Regions from separate parts of the Homo sapiens genome. Here region 1 is linked to region 2. Evidence: fine-mapped expression QTL. A gene starts in region 2. The other region holds a variant in brackets. All regions are shown on one strand. Distances are between the middles of the regions. Region 1 holds the start of DNAJB2 (DnaJ heat shock protein family (Hsp40) member B2). Region 2 holds the start of ANKZF1 (ankyrin repeat and zinc finger peptidyl tRNA hydrolase 1).

Region 1 (11,859 bases), 48 kb after region 2:
AAGGAGTTCATCGACCTGCTACTGGACCGGATTCGGAAGCTGGTGAGGAAAGGACTGAGGGCTGGGGCAGGGGGAATGAATCTGGATTCCTGTTGTGAGGTAGTCTGGACACCAGATTGGGGAAGGACAGCTTCAGCCTCTGGGAGAAACACACAGGATCAGGACCAATGAGGAGAGGCCCTGCACTCTGATCGGGGGGCCAACTGTAGGTTCCAGCCTGGAGCTGGTGTCCCCTGTATCTCCGAAGTGGCTGGCCTGATGCTAGGCAGGGTGTCCATTAAGGCAAACATGTTGATGGGCTGCCTGGCCAAGCTGTGGGGTTCCATAAGCGTTCCCAGAATACCACCTTGTGTTACAAGGATGTGGGCAGAAGTCCCTGTGAAAGGCAGGGATTCAAAGAATGTCAGCCCAAAGCCTCTGTGATTGGCTTTGGCTTCTACGAAGGATGGGGATGAGGTTCCTGGATTGTTGTTCTTAGTAGAGAAACCCTCTAGAAACATCCAAAGTTAAATCAGCGGGGCATGGGTGTGATGGTGGGTGGAGTTGGCAAGTTATGACGACAAGATGAGGGAGCCCTGGAGTCCTGTGCACTGGTCAGCCTAGACAGCCAACTCCACCCACCATCATACCCCTCTTTTCCAGCATACAACAGAGCTCTGTGTTAAGGGCCTCAGGAGATTTCAGAGGAAGAGGGACAGGGAGGAGAAAGGGTGGGCCCTGGACCCACTCTATGAGGATCTCTTTTGTGCTCTTGGAAAAGTCTTCCAAGGAGTTCATGAAACTTTTGGGAATTTAAAACAGCACAAGTTGGTTCTTTCCTGTCCATCAGCTGTGCTCCATGCCCCACATTTCCCCTCCCCTTCCCTGTCTAGGCTGACCAGTGCACAGGACTTCAGGGCTTCCTGGTGTTCCACAGCCTTGGTCGGGGCACTGGCTCTGACGTCACCTCATTCCTGATGGAGTGGCTTTCTGTTAACTATGGCAAGAAATCCAAGCTGGGATTCTCCATCTACCCAGCCCCCCAGGTGTCTACAGCCATGGTCCAGCCCTACAACTCTATCCTGACCACCCACACCACCCTGGAGCACTCAGACTGTGCCTTCATGGTGGACAACAAAGCAATCTATGACATCTGCCACTGCAACCTAGACATCGAGCGCCCAACCTACACCAACCTCAATCGCCTCATTAGCCAAATTGTCTCCTCCATCACAGCTTCTCTGCGCTTTGACGGGGCCCTCAATGTGGACCTGACAGAGTTCCAGACCAACCTGGTGTCCTACCTCACATCCACTTCCCCCTGGCCACCTATGCACCAGTCATCTCTGCAGAAAAGGTATACCACGAGCAGCTGTTGGTGGCAGAGATTACCAATGCCTGCTTTGAGCCTGCCAACCAGATGGTGAAGTGTGATCCCCGGCACGGCAAGTACATGGCCTGCTGCCTGCTATACCATGGAGATGTGGTGCCCAAGGATGTCAACGCTGCCATTGCTGCCATCAAGACCAAGTGCAGCATTCAGTTTGTGGACTGGTGCCCCACAGGCTTTAAGGTTGATATCAATCACCAGCCTCCCACTGTGGTGCCTGGGAGTGACCTGGTAAAGTGCAACGTGCCATGTGCATGCTGAGCAACATGACAGCCATCACTATGGCCTGGGCCCGCCTGGACCACAAGTTTGACCTGATGTATGCCAAGAGGGCGTTTGGGCACTGATATGTGGGTGAGGGCATGGAGGAGGGTGAGTTCTCCAAGGCCCATGAGGATATGACTGCCCTGGAGAAGGATTACAAGGAGGTGGGCATGGATAGTGTGGAGTGGGGGGAAGAAAAGATAGGGGGGATGAATACTAGGGGAATACTGTGTGTCTGTCCTACATAAAGTGCTGTGGCCTTATTGTCTCACGAATGTCTTTTTCTCTGGGGGAAAACCATGGGGGGAGGGCTTCTTCTCCATGAGAGATAGGAACGCTGGTGTCTTAGCCTCTATTCCCCAGAAAGCAGATCTGATTTTAGATTTCATTATAGAGTGCAATTACAGCAAATAGAATGGGGGCCAAGGGAAGTAAGGCACAGAAGGAGGAAAAATTCACCCTAGAGAAAATGCAGCTGAATAAATGGCATCTCAGAACCATCCTTGGGTGAGTGGGCAGGTGAGGGCTGGGGGTGGGGTTTATGCACTGGCTCTATTCTTCCACTAGTTAAACTTTTGCCCCATCAAGCATTAATTCCCCTGCACTGGTGGATTGCACACACTTGGGCTGTAGAGTCATCAGGAAACCCTGGGCGAGGAGGAGGTGCTATTAAGTTGCACATATGTGAAGTCAGTGGAACCCCACATGGAGCTGCAACAAGAGCCCGGTGAGGCCAGGAGGATCCGAAGTGATCCTTAAAGTAATCTAGTGCCCACTAGCCCATCCTGCGATCTGGAGGCTTGTCTTCTCCAGGCAGGAGGTTGGGGTAATAGAGAGCCCTGACACTGGAGTTGGTTGAGGCAGAAGAGTGGTGCAGTGGCTGCCACACAGGGAGAATGGCTTGTAAGGGTAGGAGGCTTACCTCCCAGTAATCTCTGTCAACACTCACCACTTTTTTTTTTTTTTTTTTGATGGAGTTTTGCTCTTGTTGTCCAGGCTGGAGTGCAATGGCACGATCTCGGCTCACTGCAACCCCCGCCTCCTGGGTTCAAGCTATTCTCCTGCCTCAGCCTCCCAAGTAGCTGAGATTACAGGCATGCACCACCAGGCCTGGCTAATTTTATGTTTTTAGTCGAGACAGGGTTTCACCATGTTGGTCAGGCTGGTCTCCAACTCCTGACCTTGGGTGATCCACCAGCCTCAGCCTCCCAAAGTGCTGGGATTACAGGGGTGAGTTACCATGCCCAGCCCTGACACTCACCACTTTTTGATAAAGACAGTTGACCTTTTAACAGTCCTGTGGCATCATGCACACACAGCTTCCCACCCCCACTTCCAAACAAATGGCAAATTTTAAATCCTGAGACTGAGTGAGGCAGGAGAATCGCTTGAGACCAGGAGGCAGAATTTGCAGTGAGCTGAGATAGTGCCACTGTACTCCAGCCTAGGTGACAGAGCCAGACTCCATCTCAAAAAAATAAACATAAATAAATAAAAAAATACAATACAATAATATTTTTGTAAGGACAGGATCTCACCATGTTGCCCTGGCTGGTCTCGAACTCCTGGGCTCAAGTAATTCTCCCACCTTGGCCTCCCAAAGTGTTGAGATTACAAGCATGAGCCACCATGCCTTGCTAAAAGGGCTGACTTTTAAATCTCCATATATTTGACTTATGCGTCTTTCCATCAACTGGTTTCAAACTTGGGAAGGGAAAAGGTGTTACTCTGGGAGCCCTTCACACCCCAAGAAATAGCCATCATTTAGTGAGCATCTACTATGTGCTAGGTCCTGTATCCATAAGATCTTGTTTAATTCTGAGGTTAATACAGTTATTACACCCACTGGAACAGAAGCTCTCAGACAGGCCTTGGACTGTTTTTCATTGTTCTACTCTCAACACCCCAGTGTTGCCCGGCATATTAGATGATTAACACTTGTTGGATGAACTTGTTCAATGAACACCTATTTTATAGATGTGGAGACTGAGACTCAAAGACTCGCCCAAGGTGGTAAATGGAGGAGTTGGGATTCAAACCCAGGTTAGCCTGCACCAAATCATATGTTGCTCCCCCACCTTTTTCTTAGGTGCCCTCACTTCCTGCTCACAGTGGTTCCAGGCAGCCCTCCAGACACCACCTCTTCTCAGCCTGCCAGGTCCCGAGTGCCCAGACAGTGACTCAGGTGCCTCAGGGGCAGGGAGTGGGTGACGCTTCACAATGCCCTGCCCAGGCTCTGGGAAGGAGGGCATCGATGTAGAGGGGAGAGTCCCAGCTTCTGGGTCTGAATGGGGGTAGAGGCTTCTTTGGGGCCAGATTTTGGGGCTATCAGTGCCCTTTGGAAAACATCCCCCAACATCTCCTAGGAGGTGGTGAGGGCCTGGGAGAGGCCAGGATTGGGGGTGGGGAGGGAGGTGAGCTCTTCACCTGCCAAGACGGCTAGGGATCGAGAGAGGCAGCTCGTCTCCCTTCCTGTCTGCTGAACCAGCCAGCCCACCCTGGGCAGCTATATAGCCATCTCCCTGAGGTCTTCCTGCTAGTAATACTCTGCTGGCAGGCCCTGGCAGGCCTGGGTTGGACTGGGTATGGCTGTGGAGAGGTGGCAACCCAGACCTCCTGAGGCAGCTAGGAGCACCACCCAGCCTGGCTCCTGGGGACTCCCTCAGTGCAGGGGAAATGCTTTCATCCCTGATGATTCTGAGCCAAAGTACAATTGCCTCCTTCAGGCAGACAAAAGAGACAGGTTTCCAAGCTCAGATTCTACCCAACAAATTTATTCCCTGGGCTCTGATGTGTCAGGAACACGCCTGGCTTCAAAGCTGTGTTGTCACCATTCTCTCCTTCTGGAACGCCACCTCCCCCTGCTTGTCTCAATGTTGCCATTCCTTCCAGCTTAGGTCACAGCCATCCAGAACCTACCCAGCCCCAGGGAGCTCTCCCTCTTCTGAATTCTTTCAGCACCTACCTCGGTCTCTATTTTTCATTTGGCACTTGGTGTGGGCTGCCTTGTATGATATCACTTGGCTTCTTGTCAATGTCTTATTTCCCCAACTCAATTTTTAACAATTAGTATGAATTTGAACAGTTATTAGGTGCATATGCTTCAGAATTCAAAAAGTATCAGAGAGATTTAGGAACAAGAAAAATAAGTCTCTTTCATTTTGTTCCCCTCTTGGCAGCCACCACTGTTAATGTTTTTGTTAGTGTTTCCTTCCAGAGATGTCTACATATATATAGGTTGAATATCCCTTATCGGAAATGCTTGGGAACAGAAGTGTTTAGGATTTCAGATTTTTTCAGATTTTGAAATATTCGCATATACATAATGAAATATCTTGGGGCTGAAACCCAAGTCTAAATACGAAATTTACTTATGTTTCATATACACCTGATACACATTGCATGAAGGGAATGTTGTATAATGTTTTAAATAATTTTTTTGTTTTGTTTTGTTTTGTTTTGTTTTTTGAGATGGAGTTTCACTATTGTTGCCCAGGCTGGAGTGCAATAGCGTGATCTTGGCTTACTGCACCTCCACCTTCCAAGTTCAAGTGATTCTCCTGCCTCAGCCTCCCAGGTAGCTGGGATTACACGTGCCTACCACCATGCCAGCTAATTTTTGTATTTTTAGTAGAGACAGGGTTTCACCATGTTGGCCAGGCTGGTCTCAAACTCCTGACCTCAGGTGATCCTCCAGACTTCAGGTGATCCTCCCGCCTCGGCCTCCCAAAGTGCTGGGATTATAGGCCTGAGCCATTGAGCCCAGCCTATGTTTTAAATAATTTTGTGCATGAAACAGTTTGTGTATATAAGGTCAGGTATGGAATTTTCCACTTGTGGCATCATGTCAGGTACTCAAAAAGTTTTGAATTTTTGAACATTTCACATTTTGGGTTTTTGGAGTAGGGATGCTCCATCTGTACTACCATGCTTGTATGCACATTTAGTATACACTTTGTTCTACACCTTGTTTTTTCAGTTAATAATAAATCTGGAAGATGGTCCATATGAATACTGTTAGCTATGCCTCATTCTATTTGGTCACAATATAATATTCCATCGTATAGCATACCAACACTTGTTTTACCAGTCTGCTATTAACGGGTATTTAGATTGTTTCCAATCTTTTGCTATTAAAAAGAATGCTGCAACCCTTGTATGTATTTTTTTTGCACATATATATGACCATACATTCTTAGAATTGAGATTTCTGGGTCAAAGATTATGCATTTTAAATCTTGCTCTCTTTAAAAGTCACACCAGGCCGGGCACGGCGGCTCACGCCTGCAATCCCAGCTACTTGGGAGGCTGAGGCAGGAGAACTGCTTGAACCCGGGAGGCAGAGGTTGCCGTGAGCCAAGATTGCACCATTGCACTCCAGCCTGGGCAATAAGAGTGAAACTCTGCCTCAAAAAAAAAAAAAAAAAAAAAGTCACATCAAATTACCCACCCTCCCACTACCAATCTATAAGAATGCCTGTGCCCTCAGCCTTGCCCATACAATGTATTCAACTTTTTTCTTTTTTTTGTCTTTGTCAATCATCCAATAAGTGAAACAAAGTATTTTGTTAGGGCCATGTGCCCGGGTGCAGTGGCTCTGGCCTATAGTCCCAGCACTTTGGGAGGCTGAGGCAGGAGGATCATCTGAGGCCAGGAGTTTGAGACCAGTCTGGCCAACATGGTGAAACCCCATCTCTACAAAAAATACAAAAATTAGCCAGGGGTGGTGGCACATGCCTGTAATCCCAGCTACTTGGGAGGCTGAGGCAGGGGAATTGCTTGAACCTGGGAGGTTGCAGTGAGCCAAGATAGTGCCACTGCACTGGAGCCTGGATGACAGAGCAAGACTCCATCTCAAAAAACAAAACCCCAAAGTATTTTGTTGTAGCTTTATTATTATTATTCTTTTAAAAATTATTATTATTTGAGATGGAGTTTCACTCTTGTTGCCCAGGCTGGAGTGCAATGGCACGATCTTGGCTCACTGCAACCTCCGCCTCCCGGGTTCAAGTGATTTTCCCGTCTCAGCCTGCCGAGTAGCTGGGATTACAGGCATGTGCCACCACGCCTGGCTACTTTTTGTATTTTTGGTAGAGACAGGGTTTCACCATATTGGCCAGGCTGATCTGAAACTCCTGACCTCAGGTGATCTACCCGCCTTGGCCTCCCAAAGTGCTGGGATTACAGGCATGAGCCACCATGCCTGGCCTGTCGTAGCTTTAGTTTACAGTTTTTTTGTGAATGAGATTGAGCATCTTTTCATTTGTTTAAAAGCCAGTATTTCCTCTTCTGTGAGCTGCCTGTCCCTTTGTCCATTTAAAAATGTCATTGTCTTTCATTAGTTGGCATTTCTTTGTGGACAAAGGAAATTAAACCTTTGTCTGCTAGATGTGCTCCATATAATTTCCCTCAGTTGTCATTTGTCTATGTCCTATCCCCTTGAGCACAGAGATTGGAATTTAAACTTTTTTATATTCTTTTTCTTAATATAACAAGACATACACGGTAGGTGCTAGACAAATGTCTGTTGGCACAGCAGAGTAAGAAGAAAAAGGCAGAGATCTGGAAAATTTGGAGTGACTTAACCCAACCACTCCTTCCTCTTATACCAAGTCTAACCCTTAGTCTTTGTGTCAGTCAGGACTCTTATAAACAGCAGAAGCTAACTGGCAAATTGTTTCAAGTCCCCTGCCCCCAACAATTATAGAGATATCGGATAGCACACAGAATCAATGCAAGGGCCAGCAAACAAGGGTCAGCAATCAGACAGGCACCTAGGGAAGCTGGGCAGCCAGTACCACAGTCAAGGTTGGGCACAGGACAGCCTGTGTAGGAGACTCCTGTCCCCTCCACCCTCCGCAGTGATCCTCCTACTCTCGTCCCTCACCTGCGGCAGTAGCGCTGACACTTCCTCCTCCAGACACTAGAGGCCGCTGTTGGCCCCATCGCCTCCACCGCCGCCGCAGAAATGAATTCCTAAACCAGCCTTGCTATTCCGTGACTTGCTCCAGATTCAAAGTCCCAGTTGGAGCATCCGATTGGCGGAGCTCATGTCTTCTGCCTGCAACCCCAGAGCCGAGTCAGGGAGAGCAAGCATTGGGGCTTTGTGGCAAATGGTGGCCTGCTTTCCATTAGGGCCCTTGCGATGGGAATTCCCCAAATGTAGGCAGGAGGTTCTGATGGTGGGCAGCCAGGAAACCAGGACACTCACACCACCTTCTTCTCTCACGTCCG[C/T]CTCAAACCCTTCTCGTTGGCGAAGTATTCCTGGGTCCCCCAGCCTAAAGCACTTTTCTGGACTCACATAACCATTATTGCTTGAGCCAATCACGATGCCAGCAGGACCGCAGTAACACCTAATTCGTACCATGTCTCATTTGACTTTCAAACAACCCTAGGCACTACCTATATTTAGTGAGAAAAAAAGAGTGCTCAGAGATTTTCCCAAGTCTCACAGTAATGCCAGGTTGTACTCTGTTTCCAAAGCCTCGGGTTTCCCAGCGGGCTACACTGATGGGCTGGTATCTTATCAAGTTCAAGCTCTGCAAAGGCAGGGCTTGGGCCACATTCTTCTTTATACGGCCTGGCAGCATCTTGAATGCAGAAAAATGCTCAGCTAACGCCTTTGGATTGGCCTGGATGGGATCAAGCAGGAGCCAGTTCTGGAAGGTTTCCTAACTCTCCAATGAGGCCTGAACCCAGGGAGCATTTTGAAGTGGAATAGGCCTACTCAGGATCAGTTTGGGAAGACTTGAACCTGGGGAATTCCGTTGTACGGCCCCCTTTACCTCACCTCCCCCAAATGTGTCAAAACTGTCAACAAGAGGTTTGCAGGTGTTCATTATTTATTCATCCCACGGGTAGTTTTGAACCCCTACGACTGCTCTAATAGACCAGTGAGAAAAAACACACAATTCCTGTCCTGTGAAATCGACATTCTAGTGGGGGAGGTGAATGGTAATAAAAAATAATCAAACCAATAAATGCTAATTTGTGGCTCTAACAAGCCTGATGAAGGAAATGCCACGAGATGCTGTAAAAGGCAGTTCTGACCTACTCAGGAAAGCCAGGGCAGCCTGCTGGGGGACCTGGGGCTGGAGCTGGGAGCTGAAGAAGGGGGAGGAGTTAGAACCGTGGTGGGGGGAGGGAGGGAAGAGTCTGAGTCCTCGAGGTGGGTGAGTAAGCATGGATCATCGCTCATGTTTATAAGAAAGTGACAGAGGAACCTGGGGGCCGAGCGGCTTGTTTGTGGGCTGCCCCAGCCTCCGTGCGAGCGCTTCTCGCTTGGATGGAGGCGGGGCCGCAGTCTCCCAGGTCCCAGCTGGGGCTGACGTCGTCCTGGTGTGTGCCCAAAATAGCCGGCTCCGCCCTCTTCTCCCGGCAGCCCCTGCAGGCCCCCACCCCCCCAGGGGACAGGCGGAGCCGGCCTTCTCCCCGTCTCTAGTAGTTTCCGCACCGCTGACGCATGCCTGCGCGCACAGCTGGGCCGGGCGCGTCCTACGCAGCAGCCGCGAGCCGGGCTGCGGGTGCCAGACGGTTCCCGGCGGGGGGCAGGGGCGGGGCGCCGCAGGAGGCCGGGACTCCTGGCGGAGGAGGTGCGGCCGGGGGCCCGGGTCAGGCTGGGGGCCCTGGATCGGACTGCTGGAGTTGGGGGGCCCCGATAGGGCTCCTGGGCCTGGGCGTCGAGATAGCTCTTGGCCCCGGCCTGCGGGGGCAGATAAGGCTGCCGGAGGGAGCCTAGTCACCGGCCGCAAGCAGAGCCCGGTGTGCTCCGCTTCCAACTGGGAGCGCCTTCCGCCACCCGGGGAGGGGGACTGCTGCAGCCACAGGGTGGGGCTCTTGGTTCTTTCCGCCTGACTCCTTCTCTTCTGCAGCCCCAAGGAGGCCCGCCTGACGACTGACCAGTTGCCATGGCATCCTACTACGAGATCCTAGACGTGCCGCGAAGTGCGTCCGCTGATGACATCAAGAAGGCGTAAGTGCCTCCGTATGCAACAGAAGACCTCTCACCCTCCACCCGCCACCACCATGGGGCACTTCAGAGTGACACCTGTAGGTGTCTGAGGGAACCAGGTCGTTAGAAAGCACTGGGGTGCTTCTTCCGAGTGACACCTGCAGGGAGGAAAGAGACCCCTGGTAGAGTACAAGGAGAACGTCCAGAGAGTGAAGTAGTTAGTTCCTCTGGGAGCTGCACTGTGTTATGGGTTGTTCTCCAGTTGATCTTCCCCTCCTCCTCCTCCTCCTCCTCCTTTCCCCTCCCCTCCCCCTTCCCCCTAGATTTGGGCATTCTCAGGCTGCAGTGCAAAGATGCAGTGCAAAGAGGCTCTATGAGGAGGAGGGGCCGGTGTCCCTGTACTCTTCGAGGCCACATGTGCCCCAACCTTTGCAGCCCCAGTCCAGTGAGCCCTAGGGAGGGGCTAGGGACCCTGGCATTGTATCCGCTTGTACATGTGGTCCCAGCACTGGTGGCGGAGGAGAGAGGGTGGAACTTGATGAAAATATCACAGCAGCGGCAGCCCTAGCAGCTGGGGTGGACTGGGACCCGGGGGTGAAAGGACAGTGATAGGCTAATGGGAAAACAGGTCGTTCGGTTCCTGGGTGGGAAGTGCCTGCATTTGTCCCCCGACTCTCTCCTCTGCACCCACTTTCTGCAGGTATCGGCGCAAGGCTCTCCAGTGGCACCCAGACAAAAACCCAGATAATAAAGAGTTTGCTGAGAAGAAATTTAAGGAGGTGGCCGAGGCATATGAAGTGCTGTCTGACAGTAAGGGCCGGGGTCAGGCAGGACCCAGCACATCACCCCCTACTTCATGCCCCAGCTCACATTTTCTTAAAGCAATGTCTCTGCCACCTAGTTTCCTCTGTGCCTTTTTCCAGCCTGACATTTAAGCTCCCCCCTCCCACAGGGACAGCTCAGTGTCTGCTCCCCAGAGTCTGGTAGGAGTGGCTGGCATGAGACCTGAAAGGGGAAGGAAGCAGGGCAGGTAACTCATGTGAGCTGAGCCTCCTGCGTGCCAGGCATTGGTGGGTGTCATCTCCATGAGTTCTCACAGCCGTCCTATGAGGCAGGTTCTATCACCCCTATTTTACAGGCAAGGAAACTGAGGCTGAGAGAGGTGAAGTAACTTGCTCAAGGCCACGCAGAGCTGGAATATGAATCCAGGTCTGCCTTTTTATTGATTCATTCGAAAAGTAATTCAGTGAATGGTGACAGTGTCCGGCACTCGCTGGGTGCTGGGGAAACTGGAGGACAAGCAGGCACTGTCTTTGCCCAGAGGGGCAGGGAAGACCAACACCTACCAGGCACACACACAGACACAGTTACAGCTTGTGAAGAGTATTCCGAGGGAAGAAACAGGGCAGGTGGAGTGCTAGGGAATAATGTGCACTTGCTTTAGTTCTGGTGGTTGTAGAAGGCCTCTCCGAGAAGGTGACATTTAGGCTAAGCCCTGGTGAATAATAATGTAGTAATCATTAGCTAACATTTATTGAACACTTTCTATGTGTCAGGCACTGGTAGGCAGTTTACGTGGATGGTCTCATTTGATCTGTGCAACAACCCTGTGCGGTAGGTGTTGTGATGACAGCCATTTTCCAGATGAGAAGAGGCCAGCTGTGTGAAAGGCTGAGTTGCTGCCTAAACCTATAGCCCGTGTCCCCTGGGTCCCCTGCTGTGCCTGCTTTCCCCCGCCAAGTGTCAGAGTGTCAGTCTCTGGACAATCCTTTGAACGTCCTAGCCTGGGAGGGGAGCCCATCCCAGAGGGAGGGTGAAATGATCTGGTCTCTTTTTGCAGAGCACAAGCGGGAGATTTACGACCGCTATGGCCGGGAAGGGCTGACAGGGACAGGTAGGTGGAGTGGTGAGGCCCAGGAATGGAGGTGGGGCAGGGAGGAGAGGGGCAGGGCAGATTCTTGCAATGGAGGCTCTCTCAGGCTCCTGGCTGTGCCTTAGGTGAGGTCCCCCGCTCAGGGCAGGATGCATGCCCTAAGCTCTCTCCTCATCCTGCCTTTCCAGGAACTGGCCCATCTCGGGCAGAAGCTGGCAGTGGTGGGCCTGGCTTCACCTTCACCTTCCGCAGCCCCGAGGAGGTCTTCCGGGAATTCTTTGGGAGTGGAGACCCTTTTGCAGAGCTCTTTGGTGAGTGGACTCTGGAAGCCTCTGAATGGCTCAACTTCCCCCTCCAGGCCTGTCCTTCCATCAGCTGGGAGGCCCTGAGGTGGAAGGCTGA
Region 2 (11,631 bases):
TAGCCACTGCACAAGGAAGAGCAGAGTAAGCAGGGCTGTTCTCTTCCAGGAGCCTTCCTGCACCTTTCCTGTTAGTGGGGAGGCCTTACCCTTGGAGAACGGAGACCACAGTATACTGTCAATCTTTCCCAGGGCACTGGTGCCCCCCCAGACCCAGGAGGGGCTGCACTGCATGCTGAGCCAGTTACTTGTGTTGTGCCTTTTTTTTTTTTTTTTTTGAGATGGAGTCTCGCTCTGTCGCCCAGGCTGGATTGCAGTGGCGTGATCTCGGCTCACTGCAAGCTCCGCCTCCCAGGTTCACGCCATTCTCCTGCCTCAGCCTCCCGAGTAGCTGGGACTACAGGCGCCCGCTACCACGCCTGGCTAATTTTTTTGTATTTTTAGTAGAGAAGGGGTTTCACCGTGTTAGCCAGGATGGTCTCGATCTCCTGACCTCGTGATCCACCCGCCTTGGCCTCCCAAAGTGCTGGGATTACAGACGTGAGCCACCGCGCCTGGCCGTGTTGTGCCTTTCTTAAGGGAGCTTGGCCAAGGGTGCGAATTAGGGCTGAAATCCAGCCCAGGCTCCCAAGCAGTGTGCCCCTGGTATAGGACTGCCTTTGTGTGACTCAGGAGAGGTGTCTTTTTGCGGTTTTCCCAAAGACACTGTATGTTCCAGCATCATCCCAGGCCACCTGGCTCCCTCCTCTCCCAGTACCTGGGGATGACCATGCTGGCGAACATCCATCTGAGCAAAGGAGCAGGTATCTCCCACACCAACGACCTCCACGGTGAAGTTTCGGAAGAAGTCTATAATCTCCAGGGCCCGTGGGCGCAGGCAGAAGATGAGGATGAGGGGTGTGACAATGGGGCTCAGCAACTCTTCCAAAATGAACACCTAAAAGGGCGGGACCAAGGTCACAAGCGAGCAGGAGGGAGCCCAGCCCTCACCACCGAGCTACCAGCCAGTCTCTAGCAGGCCCTAACTCCAACTCCACTCACTGCCTTGTACTGGAAGAGCTGGGCAAACTCGTCCCGGGTCTGCGAGCGGTGGGCATTACCCTGCCAGTGGTCAGGCATGTAGTGGATGTGAGCGAGGATCACGCGGAGCAGCTGCTCAGGGCAGAACACCATGTGCTGGTCCGGGATAAAGGACCTAGTGGGATCAGGATCATGGTGAGATGTATGCCTTTCCCAGGAATGCTAGCCGGCTTGCTCCCGCCTGTGGCCCTGGCCCACCTGCACACGGTCACGGTGACCCCCAGGAGTGTGACGGTGGTCAGCACATGTTCCACAGCCAACACATCTTCGTCATAAATGGTGAGGGCAATAAGCACAGCCAGGATGGAGCCAGCGAAGAAGGCTCCATTCTTGGCCAGCAGTGTCAAAAGAGGTGACAAGAAGCAATTCATGTACTTGGAGGCGGGCTTGTAGCCACGGTTGAGGCGGGACTGCAGCTCGTGCTCCAGCTCGTTGAAGTGGCGGAGGTAGCAGCGGCCATAGAGTGACCAGCAGCGTGCTCCCAGGGCCCCCGGCTCCCGCTTCAGCACCTCAGCATAGCTGAAGAAGGCATAGAGGATTTGCCATATGAGGATGAGGGGGCACAGCAGGAAGTTAGCGATGCCAATCCACAGGATGCGGTTGCTGAGGCGCTGGGCCAGCTCTAGCCGTTGCCCCCCACGTTTGTACTCGGCCTTGAGGCTCCATTCATTGAGAAACAGAGAGCCAGGTCCCCAGAAGAGGATCAGCTCAAAGTTGTACTTGAGACCACGGGTGAAGAAGACAGCTTCCCCGAGGCCAGGCAGGCGGAAGCGCAGAGGCAGGAGGGATTTGTTAACCAGTGCCACCATGTAGTTCTGGAAACGGAGGATGCGGTGGTAGATGTCCAGTTCTGTCAGCTCACGTTTGTGGATGCAGATCTGGTGCTCCTTCTGCGTCTGCACGATCCGGGCCTGCACTTCTTGCCACGTGCAATACGGAAGGGCAGACTGCGGGGTGGGGTGGGGAAGAGACAAGGTACGGAAGGTGGGGTTGTTGCCTCGACCCCTTTGCCCTATATTAGAAGTGAGATTCAGGGGTTGTGAGCTTAAGAGACAGTTCCTGATTTGTCAATGACAGATAAGGATAACTGATGCCCAGGAATACACCCACACCTCCCAATACGTCTTAGACTATGGGCTAACTGCCCAACTTCCCAGTCTTACCATAGGGATGCGCAGAGCGTGCAGGTAGAAGGAGTGGATCTCCCAGTAGCAGCAAATGTTATAGATGAACTTGATAAGCCGGTGGATCCAGAAGACACCAGCAATGACCAGGATGGTGATAAGGGAGCCATTTTCCTGAATCCTGGTGGGGAAAAAGAAGGGGAGGAGAGGTGGCCCTCGAGGAAGGAGTCTTGGCAGAGACGCTGCTATCCTGAAGTATTTTTGCTAGACCAAGCCTGAGTCAGTTCTGGAGTATGAGTTGCTGCCTCAGACTCCACTCTATTACCCACCTGCTAGCAGAACTCAAGGCTATGGTGTCCTCTTGACTTGCAGCCCTTACCTGGCACTACAGACTTGAGCAGGCAAAAAGGCGTCTGGCAGAGTGACCTTGACGGGTTCAGTAGGGTGAAGACTGTGGTTCACCATCTTGTTGGCAAATAGGATGTCATAGTCCACGCAGCTGACCAGGAAGGTAGTGAAGGCAACCACAAAGAGGAACTGCCTGGGGAGTTGGGAAGAAGGGGTGCAGTCTGAGAGCCAGAGAGGCTCCAGTGAAACCCAGTGGGAAGAGGAGAGTCTGGAGGTGGCAGAACAAGACTGGGAACTGGAAGGGCCTGGAGAACTCCCAGTGGGCCCTCTCTGCTCCTCAGCCCCACAGGACTGTCTCAGGCCCACTCTTTGCTCTTAGCCTCAGCTGCCACAGCTGCAGCCTACTTTCCTCACCTCATGGTAACCTCAGCCACCACTACTGGACTCTCGAAGGTTTCATCCTGTGGGTCTCTGATCTCCAGTCTCTGATTTCCTTTTGAGGTTGTAGTTAAAAGCCCTTGGGGGAGTTTTCTGATTGAGGGAGGGCTTCCTAACCCCTTCCCCTTCGGCAATGCTATATGGCTTCTCTCTCCCAGGAGGCTCTCTGCCTAGGAGCAGGCCATGGAACAGGCAAGGCAGAACAGAGGCTTTTCTCTGTGGCTGGCATCTCTGAGACCTCCTGACTGAACAATGTACGTTCCATTGGAGCGTTGAGATGATCAAGGTCAAGGCCTGCATTCTTTTTTTTTTTGAGAGAGTCTCACTCTGTCAGCCAGGCTGGAGTGCAGCGGCACAATCTCGGCTCACTGCAACCTCCACCTCCCAGGTTGAAGCGATTCTTGTGCCTCAGCCTCCCAAGTAGCTGGGATTACAGGCGTGTGCCACCACACCCAGCTAATTTTTGTATTTTTAGAGCCTCCTAAAGTGCTGGGATTACAGGTGTGAGCTGCCGTGCCCAACCAAGGCTTGGGTTCTTTTCATGGAAGAGATAAGGCTTGGAAAGCTTTTCTTGTAAGAAAGCTTGGCCGGGCGTGGTGGCTCATGCCTATAATCCCGGCACTTCGGGAGGTTGAGGCGGGCAGATAACCCGAGGTCAGGAGTTCGAGACCAGCCTGGCCAACTTGGTGAAATCCCATCTCTACTAAAAATACAAAAAAAATTAGCCGGGCATGGTGGCACATGCCTGTAGTCCCAGCTACTAAGGAGGCTGAGGCAGGAGAATCACTTGAACCTGGGAGGCAGAGGTTGCACCGAGCCAAGACCACTGCACTCCTGCCTGGGCGACAGAGTGAGACTCACTCCATCTCAAAAAAAAAGAAAGGTGAAGCTGTAAGTTTTGGTGCCACACCCAGTCCCTGAACTACAAAGGTTTACGGAGTTTTAGCCTAGGACTGAGTTGTACTGGCAGGTTGGGCCAAGTGTGAGTGCAAGGAGAGGAAAGACTAAGATGTATTCTTTCACCACATCATCTGTCCCTTCTTATACTTACATGAGCTCAAAGATCTCCCCGATGAGCATACATGTGAAGCCATTCTTCTGGTGCAGATTATAAACGTGTAATTGTTAAGAAAAAGTAGTCAGTAAAGAAAGCAGGTAAGAGCACAGACTTTGGTGTCAACACACTCAAGCTTAAGTCCTGGCTCTGTGACTTTCTAGCTGTGTGACTTTACCAAGTTACTTAACCTGTCTAAACTTTTGTCTGTCCATGGTGGTACATTAGGAATAAATAACACTTGTCTCATAGGAGTATTAGGTCTAAGATAATGCATGTAAAGCATTTAACACAGAGCTGACACAGAATGAGTCAAAAGACGTTACTTATTACGATTATTTACATCCCATCAAAAAGGAGGCTCGGCTGGGTGTGGTGGCTCACGCCTGTAATCCTAACACTTTGGGAGGGCAAGGCAGGTGGATCACTTGAGGTCAGGAGTTCGAGACCAGCCTTGCCACATGGTGAAACCCTGTCTCTATGAAAAATACAAAAAATAGCTGGGCATCGTGGCAGGTGCCTGTAATCCCAGCTACGTGGGAGACTGAGGCAGGAGAATCTCTTGAACCCAGGAGGTGGAGGTTGCAGTGTGTTGAGATCGCCCCTGGACTCTAGCAGCAACAGAGACAGACTCCATCTCAAACAAAAAAAAAAGGAGGCTCACCCTTAGAAAGGCTTCTACAAATTAACACCACAAAGTGGACACAGGCACACAGATCTTGGTAAATGTGGGCTATCATTACTTAACGATGATTTCACCAGCCTCTTTCAGCCTCAGGATGAGCTCCATTCCCGTTTCCAGGTATTAGAGTCAAACCTACCCCCACCTCCCACCAGAGCCCCGGCTTAGAGAGACATTAAAGGTCCCAGAGCTCCAACTCAGAAACACAAAGGATATTCGAGAGAAGAAGAGGTCAAGGTTTTCAATATGGTGCCAAGGTGCTGTGGGATAGGAACAGAGATGTCAGAGCCCTGGGAGAACACAAGCCCCTTGCTCTCTCCATGTTCTTCCATCAACTCTCCCTATGGCTGTCATATCCAAGAACTCACACTTGCTCCCCTCGGCGACGTGCACCAACAGGTCCTCCTCCCCTGGGGGTGAATCACTATAGGAGGCCTCTAGGCGCTGGTATTCAGTGTCAAACTGCGCCATCACCACCGCCCCCTGTCCACCTTGACCACCTGCCAATAAGGAGGAAGAAGAGACCCTGATTCAGTTCCAGCTGCTGCCCATGGGCTGCCCTGCCTACTGCCAAAAGGAGAAAGTACCCTTGGGCTTTGTCCACTACCAGCCTCCTTGGCTCAGAGGCAGAGGAGTAGTGACACAAGAAAGGCAGTAAGCTCAGGGCTGGGGGAGCCTTAACTCTGGCCAGTCTGGGTGTCTACTGCTGCTTTCCTGGCCCAAAGCCAGAATCTGTCCCTTTGTTGGGGGCTGTTTCATCTTCTATTTAACGGACAGAAGAGTCCCTCCCCCGCCCATCCTGGGAACCCTGGTCTCCCAAGAGACTAACAGTTTGGAAGCACTTCACAAACAAATGTTTGAGAAAAGCACATGGCCCTACCAGCTCCATGGACAGTATGTGCTCCTCTCCAGCCCTCGATGCTCTGCAGCTGCTGGAGGAGAAGATGTCAGGCCCCAGAGAGTGGGCAGTGGGGATAAAAAGGAACCCAACCCTCCCAGCCATCCACACCCCACCAAGAGGAGGCCAAGCATGGGGCAGGAAGGCTGCAGTGGGGAAGAAGCACCCTTCCAGCCCAGGACTACGAGCACTTCCTCTGGCTGTGCTAAACCGGGCCACTCTTCCAACTCCAGGGTCTCAAGAAGTAACTTAGGGACCCCATGGAGAATGAGTGGGTACAGACCTGAGGCCAGGGGCGCCTCTGGACTATTTCTCCATTGCCCTACCTTAGCCTCAGAAATGACATACTTCTCAGGGTCCACAAAACCTCAAGAGTCTTTCCTGAAGAGGACCTTTCTGGTCAACCCCTTCTCTTACTTCCCTAGCACCAAAGATCCAGCCGGTGAGCAAACCTTCTGGATGGGAAACCTTGACTGGGTCAGTGTAGACCCCCGATCCTAGGTGAATTTGTGGGTTCCCTAGGTCCTGTAAGCCAGGCATGGTCGAGGTGGTACTCACCTGTCCGTGCAGCCCCTGGGGGCCGTGGATCTTGGCCCAGCCTGGCCCCGGTGGGATTCCCTGGGCTAGTGAGAGCCCTGCCCCTCAGGGAAGTCACCACTCACAGGGTCAGTGTGGACCAGGGCCCGTGGAGCCCCGGCCGGCTGGGCCTGGGCTCAGGGGTTCCTGCGGATGTTGCAGGGATCGAGTCAGCCTTACAGCTGATAGCCCGGGTGGGTTGGCTTGCCTCCCCACACCCAGCCGCGGCGACCGTGGACCGGAGTCCACCTCGCCCCAGGGTCGCCCGGCCCCAGGCCAAGGGCTGGCAGCTCCCAACAGCGGACAACCTCGCGCGCGGCCCCGGCGCCCGCGCGCGCCCCCGTCTGCGCGCGCCAGCAATCAAAACATTCCGGCTGCGCGCCCCCGCCCCGCCGGCGGCGCCCCTTCCTCCGTTACCCGCCGCGAGCTCACTTAGGGCTCCGCAGGCACCCCTGGGCAAGGCCAGACACGGGGCCTGGGATTCCAATAACCGGTCTCACGTCTTACCTCAGGAACAGCGACCCGGGTGATTCCAGAGGCTCCGCCGGCTCCGCTCGGCTCGGCTCGGCTCGGCGCGACCCGCGGCGCTAGGCCGGGTGTCTGCCACTCACTGTCACCCGCAGCCAGGCTGGCCAATAAGCACGGGGGGCGGAGACACAACGGCCAATTCTCGGCTTCAGGGACGGGACTAAAGTCTCGAGGCGGGTCTTGGACAGTCAGCGGCCCAATAGTGTGCTCTACGTGGGGCGGGGCTCAGGTGCGGACGCCGCCGGTTGTCCTCTTCGCTGCTCCGTAGTGACGGGGATTGTTGTGTTGCAGAAATCCGGCAATCGACCTGAGGACTTGCGAGCCGCTCAGCTCCCGGGACGTTTGGTGCGTCTTCTAAGGGCGTGGGCGAGTTTACGCGGGCCAGTTGTTGCTGGTCGCATGGGTAACGAAGAAAGTTCGGCTAGGCAAGCTCAGTGATTTTTAACTCTGTTGGACTCGATTTGGGAGCCGAATGCCTATTTCATTCTTTTGTGGGCTGAGACTGGGGGTTTGAGAAAGTGGACGGGGGCCAAGGTATTCATCTCACAGTTGGTAGCAGGATGAGAGACGAGAAGTCTTGCGGTGCAGGAGAAACCAAGTCAGGCAGGCAGGAGACGCAGCAGTAGGATCTCGTTTGCAGGAGCCCTGTTTCTTACACGCTTTCTACTCCAGGAGCTGCTGCTAAATAATTTCTGCTCAGCCATGTCGCCGGCTCCAGATGCAGCCCCGGCTCCTGCGTCGATCTCCCTGTTTGACCTCAGCGCGGATGCTCCGGTCTTTCAGGGCCTGAGCCTGGTGAGCCACGCGCCTGGGGAGGCTCTGGCCCGGGCTCCGCGTACTTCCTGTTCAGGTATCCTGGAAGGTTTCGTGTGAAACGTGACAGGGCTCCTTACAGCGTATTGCCCGTTCAGGGAACACATTCTTATTGGTATTCCCGAGCTTAGGAGGCCAATTGATTTATCTTTCTGCTTGATTAAATTCACTTAATCTCTGGGTAATGTCCAGCACAGCCCTTGTTTTCAAACAAGTCTTTTTGCCATTGCATGTATCTCCTCACGTTAACACCATTCCCTTCAAAAACACTTTAAACTTTGTAGAGATAAAATTCTCAGATGTATTCCACATTTAACCAGGCCCCACTCAAATTATTCCTTTTTGCTGAATATGAAACAATTTATTATTTGTTTCGTATAGCTTTATTTTTTGAGAGTCTCGCTCTGTCGCCCAGGCTAAAGTGCAGTGGCACGATCTCCACCCACTGCAATCTCCGTCTCCCGGGTTCAAGTGATTCTCCTGCCTCAGCCTCCCGAGTAGCTGGGACTACAGGCCCGCACCACCATGCCCGGCTAATTATTGTATTTTTAGTAGAGACGGGGTTTCACCATGTTGGCCAGGCTGGTCTCAAACTCCTGGCCTCAAGTGATCCGCCTGGGTCAGCCTCCCAAAGTGCTGAGATTACAGGCATGAGCCACCGTGTCGGTCCTGTTTTGTGTAACTTTAGTTTGGCTACATCTTTTCTTGCACCTCTCCTTAGACAAACTGTACACTAATTGGAAATGTAAACTTTAAAAAGCATTTGGGAAGTAGTTTTTGTGCAGTGAAAAATAATTTTAAACTGAACAGAAATTATTTTCTTTAGGATTCACCTAAACAATCTGTTTGGCTAATTTAAATTAGACAAGACTCAAACTCAGCCAGTGGGGAGGACTTGCAGACGCTGGATCTCGGGAGAGGGCTACGTTGGAGAAGTTTAACCGACCCCAAGGCTTTTACCCTCATCGGATTCTTTTCCAGAATGCCCAGGGCCAGTTTTTATTTACATTCGTTTTATTTATTTTATTTTTCTTCATCTTTTTTGAGACAGAGTCTCGTTCTGTTGCCCAGGCTGGAGTGCAGTGGTGTGATCTCGGCTCACTGCAAGCTCCGCCTCCCCGGTTCATGCCGTTCTCCTGCCTCAGCCTCCCAAGTAGCTGGGACTACAGGCATCCGCCACCACACCCGGTTAATTTTTTGTATTTTTAGTAGAGACGGGGTTTCACCGTGTTAGCCAGGATGGTCTTGATCTCCTGACTTCATGATCCGTCTGCCTTGGCCTCCCAAAGTGCTGGGATTACAAGCGTGAGCCGCTGCACCTGGCCAATTTTATTTTATTTACATTCATTTTACGTACATGTTTTCAGAAGCATGTTTATTGCATTAAGTGATTGCTGTACTGTTTATTTCATGACTATTAGAGTGTAAATTCCTTGAAGGCAGTATCATGCCATCTCTTTTGTATCCTCCTCTGCTTTGTATATCACACTCTGAATATAATTCTTGTCACTGTGGATTTGGGCTCCCTTTCTATGTCCAATTCCTCTTCCCTTATTTAGGCTCAGGGGAGAGAGAAAGCCCAGAAAGAAAGCTACTCCAGGGTCCTATGGATATTTCAGAGAAGTTATTTTGTTCAACTTGTGACCAGACCTTCCAGAACCACCAAGAACAGGTAATAGGTCAGGTGCAGAGCTAGATGTTAGAAGCAAAAGTGTAATGGTGGGTGGGGAGAGGTAGACATTTGATTTGTCTTAATAAAGGTCCATGCTTTGACTGAGGCAGTTGGTGTTACCTGGTTGTACTTCCTAGAATACTATAACTGGTCTTGGCCAGTACAAGGCCAGGCTGGGGCATATTTCCACCTTTATCTCACTCTTTGTCTTTGTACTAGAGGGAACATTATAAGCTTGACTGGCATCGGTTTAACCTAAAGCAACGTCTCAAGGACAAGCCTCTCCTGTCTGCCCTGGACTTTGAAAAGCAGAGCTCCACAGGTGATGAGTGGTAGGGGGACCTATGTAGGAGTAGGACATGGAGGTATAAGAAAGCACTAGTTTAGAGTTTGAGGAAAGAACAAAAATGGGGTACCAAACTTGTGTATCTCATATTGTCTGTCTTCAGGAGATCTTTCCAGCATCTCGGGATCAGAAGACTCAGACTCAGCCAGTGAGGAGGACTTGCAGACACTGGATCGGGAGAGGGCTACATTTGAGAAGTTGAGCCGACCCCCAGGCTTTTACCCTCATCGAGTTCTTTTCCAGAATGCCCAGGGCCAGTTTCTTTATGCCTACCGCTGTGTCCTAGGCCCTCATCAGGCAAGTGACAGTACAGGTTGCATGGCTAACCCCAGCCTTTTGTACACCCAGCCTAGATTTCCCTTAGCCTAGTGCATTTCTCCCTGCTTCTCTTCCTTCCTGTTGGTTGTGGGTATCACGCTTGACAACATAGTCTTGAATTGAAACTGGCCTGAATTGTGGAAGGGTTAAGTGTAATGGAATTAAGTTTGGAAACAAACCAATTTAGGTTTGAATTGTGATTCTACCACTTCATCTTGACTGCCTCGCCAAGCCTCAAATTTCCTTGTTTGTCAAATGGAAACAAGCCTCAGGGTGGTAATATTAAATGAGATAATGTTTGTGAAAATTGGCCCTTAGTTTCTTGCTCTCAGTGAATGCAACAGATATGTTTCTGATGCTTCTCTGTCATCAAGGATCCCCCAGAAGAGGCAGAACTGCTGCTACAGAACCTGCAAAGTAGAGGTCCCAGAGACTGCGTGGTGCTCATGGCTGCAGCTGGGCACTTTGCTGGTGCTATATTTCAAGGGTGAGAGGGTGCTGCATGGGGGTAAGGATGGAGTGGATCCTGTTAGCCAGGGAGCACCAGCTGGTCTCCAGTACTGAGTCTGTGCTGTCTACAGAAGAGAAGTGGTGACACACAAAACTTTTCACCGCTATACGGTTCGGGCCAAGCGGGGCACAGCCCAGGGGCTTCGGGATGCCCGAGGTGGGCCATCACACTCTGCTGGAGCCAACCTGAGGCGCTACAATGAAGCCACACTATATAAGGTGAGTTAAGCCTTTTAGATCTGGTGGTACTGATCCATACTTTTTTTGCATCTCTGTTCAACTCACTGTTAAGTAGGGAGGTTTTTGACTCATATCCTTCCAATTTTCATTATAGGTAGACAAAGGTAGATGAGGGATTCCCCAGGAGCCTTAGTCCTCTATTCTTTCTCCGTGTTATCCTCTACTTTCCACCCCTTGCACTTCTGTGGGCCATTTTTTTTAGTTGGAGATTTATAAATAGCAAGTGAAGGTATGCAGGACTGAGTTACTCTCTTCTCTAGGATGTTCGTGACCTGCTGGCAGGGCCAAGCTGGGCTAAGGCGCTGGAGGAGGCTGGTACAATACTGTTGCGTGCTCCCCGCTCTGGCCGGTCTTTGTTCTTTGGAGGCAAGGGAGCACCCCTGCAAAGGGGGGATCCCCGACTTTGGGATATCCCCCTCGCCACCCGCAGACCCACCTTCCAAGAGCTACAGCGTGTGCTCCATAAGCTGACCACTTTGCATGTCTATGGTGAGCCTTTGCTCCAGATCCCAATTCCCTAGACCTTCCTGTTCTCTCCAACCTAAGCCTCCATTCTCATTGGTATATCCAGAGGATTTTCTAAGCCTTGGACTGCAGCCCAGCTACATCTGCATTGAGAGAAACCTGCGCTAGCTTCTCCTCAGCTAAGGTTGAGAAAGATCTTTTCTTTTATGGCAGAAGAAGACCCTCGGGAAGCAGTCAGACTGCACTCACCTCAGACACACTGGAAAACAGTAAGAGAGGAGAGAAAGAAGCCTACTGAGGAAGAAATAAGAAAGATCTGCAGGGATGAAAAGGAAGCGCTGGGGCAGAATGAGGAATCTCCCAAACAGGGTTTGATTACTATCTGGCAACTGTCAGATCTGAGTTTCTGTCCTAAAAATGCACTGGCAAATTCCCTACTCTCATAACTGACCCATTTCCTTATTTAAACACACACCCACAGTGTCTATCTTAGCAATTACTGAGACATGTTTAGTGACCTTTCCAAATCTATTATCTCTTTTGTTATGGATGTTTCCCCAGAGCTAAGAAAATCTTTGTGTGGAGCAGATGCGTGGATG

Evidence for each region.
Region 1: its variant is fine-mapped to the expression of ANKZF1 in lung (TOPMed, PIP 0.98). The same link has a PIP of 0.9 or more in whole blood.

What each region holds. Positions count from the first base shown.
Region 1 is chr2:219,270,294-219,282,152 of GRCh38, forward strand. It overlaps DNAJB2 (DnaJ heat shock protein family (Hsp40) member B2), which reads left to right and starts at 9,073. Exons shown (of 9, transcript NM_006736.6): 1 at 9,073-9,225; 2 at 9,505-9,605; 3 at 10,285-10,394; 4 at 11,425-11,478; 5 at 11,646-11,768. The coding sequence starts at 9,541. It overlaps TUBA4B (tubulin alpha 4b), which reads left to right. Exons shown (of 4, transcript NM_001355221.1): 3 at 1-42; 4 at 873-1,904. The coding sequence ends at 1,406. RefSeq lists an enhancer at 7,193-7,897 and silencers at 7,474-7,676, 8,918-9,397. The variant C/T (reference allele first, on the strand shown) is at 7,868.
Region 2 is chr2:219,222,888-219,234,518 of GRCh38, forward strand. It overlaps ANKZF1 (ankyrin repeat and zinc finger peptidyl tRNA hydrolase 1), which reads left to right and starts at 6,919. Exons shown (of 14, transcript NM_018089.3): 1 at 6,919-7,013; 2 at 7,341-7,518; 3 at 9,041-9,153; 4 at 9,373-9,475; 5 at 9,603-9,796; 6 at 10,192-10,304; 7 at 10,399-10,546; 8 at 10,828-11,056; 9 at 11,246-11,401. The coding sequence starts at 7,371. It overlaps ATG9A (autophagy related 9A), which reads right to left and starts at 6,749. Exons shown (of 16, transcript NM_001077198.3): 1 at 6,648-6,749; 2 at 5,547-5,598; 3 at 5,035-5,166; 4 at 4,883-4,926; 5 at 3,982-4,046; 6 at 2,524-2,685; 7 at 2,184-2,325; 8 at 1,219-1,967; 9 at 982-1,135; 10 at 698-877; 11 at 1-6. The coding sequence starts at 5,137. RefSeq lists enhancers at 5,689-6,237, 6,238-6,785, 6,786-7,333, 7,004-7,113 and silencers at 6,464-6,513, 6,724-6,853.